Regions from separate parts of the Homo sapiens genome. Here region 2 is linked to region 1. Evidence: fine-mapped QTL for protein levels in blood plasma. A gene starts in region 1. The other region holds a variant in brackets. All regions are shown on one strand. Distances are from middle to middle.

Region 1 (2,918 bases):
GGAGATTTGGGATTTGGAGGCTTGCAACACTGTGCCCAAACAGCAGACAAGGCTCTGGTCACAGTCACCCCCAAGTCCCCTGCTTCTTTGTTTTTTCTTTTACTTTTTTTTTTTTTTTTTTTTTTTTGAGACGGAGTCTCACTCTGTCGCCCAGACTGGAGTGCAGTGGCACAGTCTCAGCTCACTTCAACCTCCGCCTCCTGGGTTCAAGCCATTCTCTTGCCTCAGCCTCCTGAGTACCTGGGACTACAGGTGTAGGCCACCACGCCCGGCTAACTTTTGTATTTTTAGTAGGGACGGAGTTTCATCATGATGGCTAGGGTGATCTCGAACTCCTGACCTCAGGTGATCAACCCGCCTTGGCTTCCCAAAGTGCTGAGATTACAGGCGTGAGCCACCACGCCCAGCCTGCTTCTTTGTTTTCTAAGCTGTCCCACCTTCTAGAACATGACAGAGTCTCCAGTGAGAAGGGACATGCAATAAAAATCAATGTAGTCTAGGGCCTCGAGAGGGCTTTGAGGTCCAAGGTTTGCCCTAAGTGATGGGACACTTTGTGTTTTGTACACCAAGAGCGCTGTCTCCAGCTATCTGGAGAGTCTGAGGCTCTGGGAGTGAGAAAGGGTTTCTAAAGCACTGGCTGCTTCTTTGACATCTCTCCCCACCCCCCAGGCAACAGAGCCAAGACACACACACCCCAACTTTCTCTGTCCTGTTCTATTACTGTTTGCTGTTGCTTTGGAGCCTCATAAATAGGGCATTGAAAGCACTTCCTGCAGCTGAAAGAAGCCCTGAGTAGCTCGTCTCATTCCCAGCGTGCAGCTCAGCAAGGGGTCCGTCCTTCTCTGTCACTGTCTCTTTTGCCTGTTGTAATTCTGTCTGCCTCTCTGGGACTCTGCCTGTCTCACTCTTTCTGTCTGTGCCTCTCCTCACTCTTGTTCTTTCTGCCTGAATCACAGCCCTCAGTTTTTCTGTCCTCATGCATTTGTCTTTGTGGCTCTTTCCGTCTTTCTGCCCTTGACACCATCCCCTCTCCCAGTGCTTCCCCTCTGCTTCCAGATCGCTTCATGACTTAGGCAGGGAAACAGAGGTCAGGGCCTCCTTCCAGGCTTCCCTCTGCATCTTACTGAGTATGCAGGTCGGAAGAGCCTCGGGTCCTGCCTCCGCGGGTGGCCTAGAGCCAAAGGAAGGCGGAGCCCGTCGGGGCGGGATTGGCCCTTAGGGCCACCTCATAAAGCCTGGGGCGAGGGGCACAACGGCCTTGGGAAGGAGCCCTGCTGGGGCCGTCCAGTCCCCCAGACCTCACAGGCTCAGTCGCGGATCTGCAGTGTCATGCCTGGGAGCCCTCGGCCCGCGCCAAGCTGGGTGCTGTTGCTGCGGCTGCTGGCGTTGCTGCGGCCCCCGGGGCTGGGTGAGGCATGCAGCTGCGCCCCGGCGCACCCTCAGCAGCACATCTGCCACTCGGCACTTGGTGAGTCCGAGGTCCGCGAGGTCCACAGCAGGGGGTGGTTGTGGGGGATTAGTATCTGGCCAGCAGTACACCAGGAGTCCAGAGGAAAAGGGAGGAGCTCAAATTCTTACCGGTTGTCTCTTGCTGAGGCTGATGGGTGGAGAAGGACCAGGCGCCATAGCAACCTTGCAAGCCCAGAACCTGACTGATTCATAAGGAAATGAAGATTTCATCAGGGACTTCCATAGCGACCTCCCTCACTCCGGCCATACTGCAATTATGGAGTGTCATTACACAAGGTGTCACCGGAGCTATCTGATGATTATTCTGAACTACTAGACTGGGGACAGAAAGGGGAGGGGAGAGGGCTTGCATTGTAACTACCCGTGTCTGTCCAGGCCTATAACTGAGGTTGCCACCAAGCCCCTATGGCAACACACACGTTCTGTCCTTTCTCTTCCCTCTGCCTGGAATGCCCTCCCTCACACCCTTAAATTCCTGGCAGACTCCTACTCATCCTTCAAGGGCTAACTTAGGTCTCTCCCCTTCTCTGCAGGCTCCCGGGCTCCTTGGTGCCGCCTCAGCATCTCTAACCGTCTTAGCGCTCCTACTATGCTGTGCTGTTGTTCTTTACACGTGTGCACTCCACTAGATCAAGAGCTCGGCAGGATGGGGACCCTGTCTTAATCACATCTATGGGCCTAGTGCCTAGTGCAAGGCCAGGCACAGAGGAAGAACATCATCAACAGTTTTTGGTTATTAATGCTCAAATGGCAAGAGATGCAATACCTCAGTGCAGGGTCAGAACATTTATGAATTCAATAAACATTTACTAATATCAACTGTAGGCGGGATGAGAGGCCTTGACCACAGCAATAGATAAACTTCACACCGACTGCCCTGAAGGGGCTCCTCCTCCCTTCTCTACTCTGACTCCTACCCTGTGCCCCACTGCACAAACGGCTATGGAGAACTAGAGCTCTCCAGACTAACTGGTTCAAAAGGCAGAAACAGCTTAGCGGTTATAGGACCTAATAAGCCTGAGGGGTTTGGAACTTCCAGTGACTGCAGGGGAGGTGTTTCCAGGTCCCCCTTCTCACACATCACGTTGCTCACAACCCAGCCACACCAAAACCAAGAACTGCCCTATAGACTTCTTCATGGACCCTGGATCATCCAGACCTCAGGTGTATTGCCCCCACCAGCTGCTGAAGGTTCCCTCTTTTCTCTTCCTATGCAGTGATTCGGGCCAAAATCTCCAGTGAGAAGGTAGTTCCGGCCAGTGCAGACCCTGCTGACACTGAAAAAATGCTCCGGTATGAAATCAAACAGATAAAGGTACATGGGGGCAGGCTGGGATGTGTAGCCCCTAAGGCTGATGGAGAAAGTGGAGTCTGTGTTCTGGGAGGGCTGGTAGCTTTCAGGTGGCCTGGCTCAGTAATCCTTGGGTCTAGATACTGAAGTGGAACTG
Region 2 (2,918 bases), 100 kb after region 1:
AATAAAGACTATGTTTCGAGTATGTTTATATGTTTCAGTTTTAATGTTCTTCTAAAATTATAGAACCAATTCTACTTACATGTTTATTTTTAAGTATTTCCACTATATTTTTTCATAAAATCTTCCCTGATTGTCTCATAGTAACAGTAAAAGCATGTCACGGGAGTGGAAAAGCAGAAAGCTATAGAGATTGGAAACCAGTTATCCATAAATTAAGAGCCCAAAGTTATCAGACTGAATCAAATGCTGAGAAATCAATAATCAAAATCAAAACTACAAAATATAAAGCCAACTTTCTAAAATCAAACTGTAACCAAAGAAATAAGTTTGAATCTTAGTCATCCTACAGGCATGTCTAATCCAAATTTATACAATGTTCATGGCTAAAGTCATATCACATAAGAGGACTGAAAATAAAATCCCTTCCTGTAGCCTAATTTTTATATGTTTAAGATTGTTCTAGGACTTCTCAGCTGCTGGACTATATTTGAAACTCATTTCAAATATCTTTGTTCATGTTTCACTAGAAAAACAATTCCCCTAAAAATAAGGGATTTAAAGATGTCAAAAAGTATACACACACACACACACACACACACACACACACACACAGACAGTCTTGCCTTGTCGCCCAGGTTGGAGTGCAGTGGCACGATCTTGGCTCACTGAAACCTCTGCCTCCTGGGTTCAAGCAATTCTCCTGCCTCAGCCTCCCGAATAGCTGGGATTACAGGCGCATGCCACCACGCCCAGCTAATTTTTGTATTTTTAGTAGAGATGGGTTTTCACCACGTTGGCCAAGTTGGTCTTGAACTCCTGACCTCAAGTGATCCGCTTGCCTCAGCCTCCCAAAGGTGCTGGGATTACAGGCGTGAGCCACCACACCTGGCCCAGATGTCACTATATTTTCATATCTTGTCTTAGAATTATCATTTTTGTTCTGTTAGAACAAGTAATATAACCAGTCTTTTATATAACAGATTAGTTGAGAGGGTGAGAATATACATGTTTCCATATAATTTTTAATATACACAAAGGACACAACTTTTTAGGAGGGTGACTAACTGAAGGCTAGATACTATAGACACTAGGTTTAGAGAGACATTGGTATACCACCCACACTTCTATTTGCCAACATCAGTAAATGAGGGAAGTAGAAAGTCTGCTTTGGAATCAATCAAATTTGGGCTTGAACTCCTGCCCCCTACTCATTACCATGAGGAAATTATTTAACTTCTGAGACTCTGCCAAATAAGAATAATCCATTTTGAATGTCAAGATAACAGGTGTGAAATGCTCTAGTACAAAGTCTAGTATACCTTAGGCAAAAATATTTTTAATATATAGGTGCCCTTCTTTTCTCCTCTCTGCCCACTAATCCTCTTGCTCTTGTTCATACAACAGAAAACATTTTTTTCTTTAAACTTTATGTTGTAAAATAAAACAAAGATACAGAAAGCCACATCAAAATTAAAAAAAAAGAGTATTGCTTAATGAGTTTAATGAGTTGTTATAAGGCAAACACTCATGTATCCACCATCCAGGTTAATAAACCAATTTTGACAGCCACCCCAGGAGCAACTTCAATACCCAGTCCCAGTCTTGACCCCCTCCTTCCCCGCAAAGGTAACCACTCTCTTGACTTTTATGGAATTACTTCCTTATGCTTGTATTCAAGTGTATATTCTTAAACACTACAGTTTACAGTTGCCTATTTAAAAAAAAAAAAA[C/A]AAAACACAACTTTGTCTTCCAAATCTCTTTTAATCCACAGGTTTCCCTGTGCATCCCTTTATTTTCCTTAGAGTTGATCTGTTCAAGAGCCTGGAGCATCTTGATCCATATGTAGAATTTCCCATAGTAGCAGTTTTGCTGATTACACTCTCACCAGGAAGATCGTCTTTCTCCATTCTTTGTGTTTCCCACAAATTGGCAGCTGGACGCAGAGGCTTGATCAGACTCCTGTTAGATTCCTTTTATCAGGAGCTCATAAAGTCTGCCTTTCTGTGATATTAACAGCTGTTGATGTTCAATACCTAGATGCATTAATTCAATGGGAGTTGCAAAACGGTAATACTCTAATTTTATCATTTTTATGCAAAAATTCATTTTATTCCCATGTGCCAACAGCCAATAAATAGAAAATGAAATTCAAAGAGTAATACCATTTATAATAGCATCAAAAGAACCACCAAATACCCAGAGAGAAAGGCAACTAAATATGTAAAAGACTTCTGCCTTTAAAAACCACAAAGCATAATTTGAGAGTTTTTAAAGCCTCAAACAGTTGGTGGGATATACCATGTTCATGTTCTAAAAATTCATAACTGCAAATATATAATTTCTCCAAAAATTGAACCACAGAATCAACACAATCACAAAATCCCAGATCTTTCCTGTATGCAAGGAAATCCATTATTTTTCATATTTCTTTTTTCCTTTAAGTTTATTCTCTTCATTTGATAACTTCACAAAATGGAGCTCATTCATTTTTAAAGCTTTCTTGTCTAATATATTTAAAATAAAAGTTTTCTTCAAAATACTGCCTTTGCTGCATCTCTTAAATATCGTTATGTAGTGTTTTCATTGTCATTACCTTCTAGGTATTTTTAATTTACATTAATTATTTAGTGGTGTTTTCAAATTTTCAAAATACATGGGGAATTTTTAAGATTTTCATCTTTTTATATTAACTTCTAATTTCATTATAGTCAAAGATCATTCTATATCTTTTTGAAATGTGTTGATGTGTTCTCTGCTTTATTCATATTAATTTTTATGAATGTTCCATGAATATTTGAGAAACTGTGTGTTCTTAAATTGTTAAATATAAAAATCTATATGTCCAAAAGGTCAAGTATCAAGCTTTTTAATTTTGGCATTCAGATCTCCTATACTGTTCACTTTCTGTCTTCTTGACC

The links. A credible set is the group of variants that fine-mapping cannot tell apart. PIP is the chance, under the fine-mapping model, that this variant and not a neighbour inherited with it causes the effect. Sun 2018 read protein levels with aptamers (SomaScan).
Region 2: its variant is the best candidate, but not a certain one, in a credible set for the plasma level of the TIMP4 protein (Sun 2018, PIP 0.90).

Annotation. Positions count from the first base shown.
Region 1 is chr3:12,157,252-12,160,169 of GRCh38, reverse strand. TIMP4 (TIMP metallopeptidase inhibitor 4) reads left to right here and starts at 1,258. Exons shown (of 5, transcript NM_003256.4): 1 at 1,258-1,468; 2 at 2,688-2,785. The coding sequence starts at 1,330. The region is part of intron 5 of SYN2 (synapsin II); the gene reads right to left.
Region 2 is chr3:12,054,982-12,057,899 of GRCh38, reverse strand. The region is part of intron 1 of SYN2 (synapsin II); the gene reads right to left. Among named protein-coding and RNA genes, the nearest start is that of SYN2, 52 kb to the right of the region's middle. The variant C/A (reference allele first, on the strand shown) is at 1,731.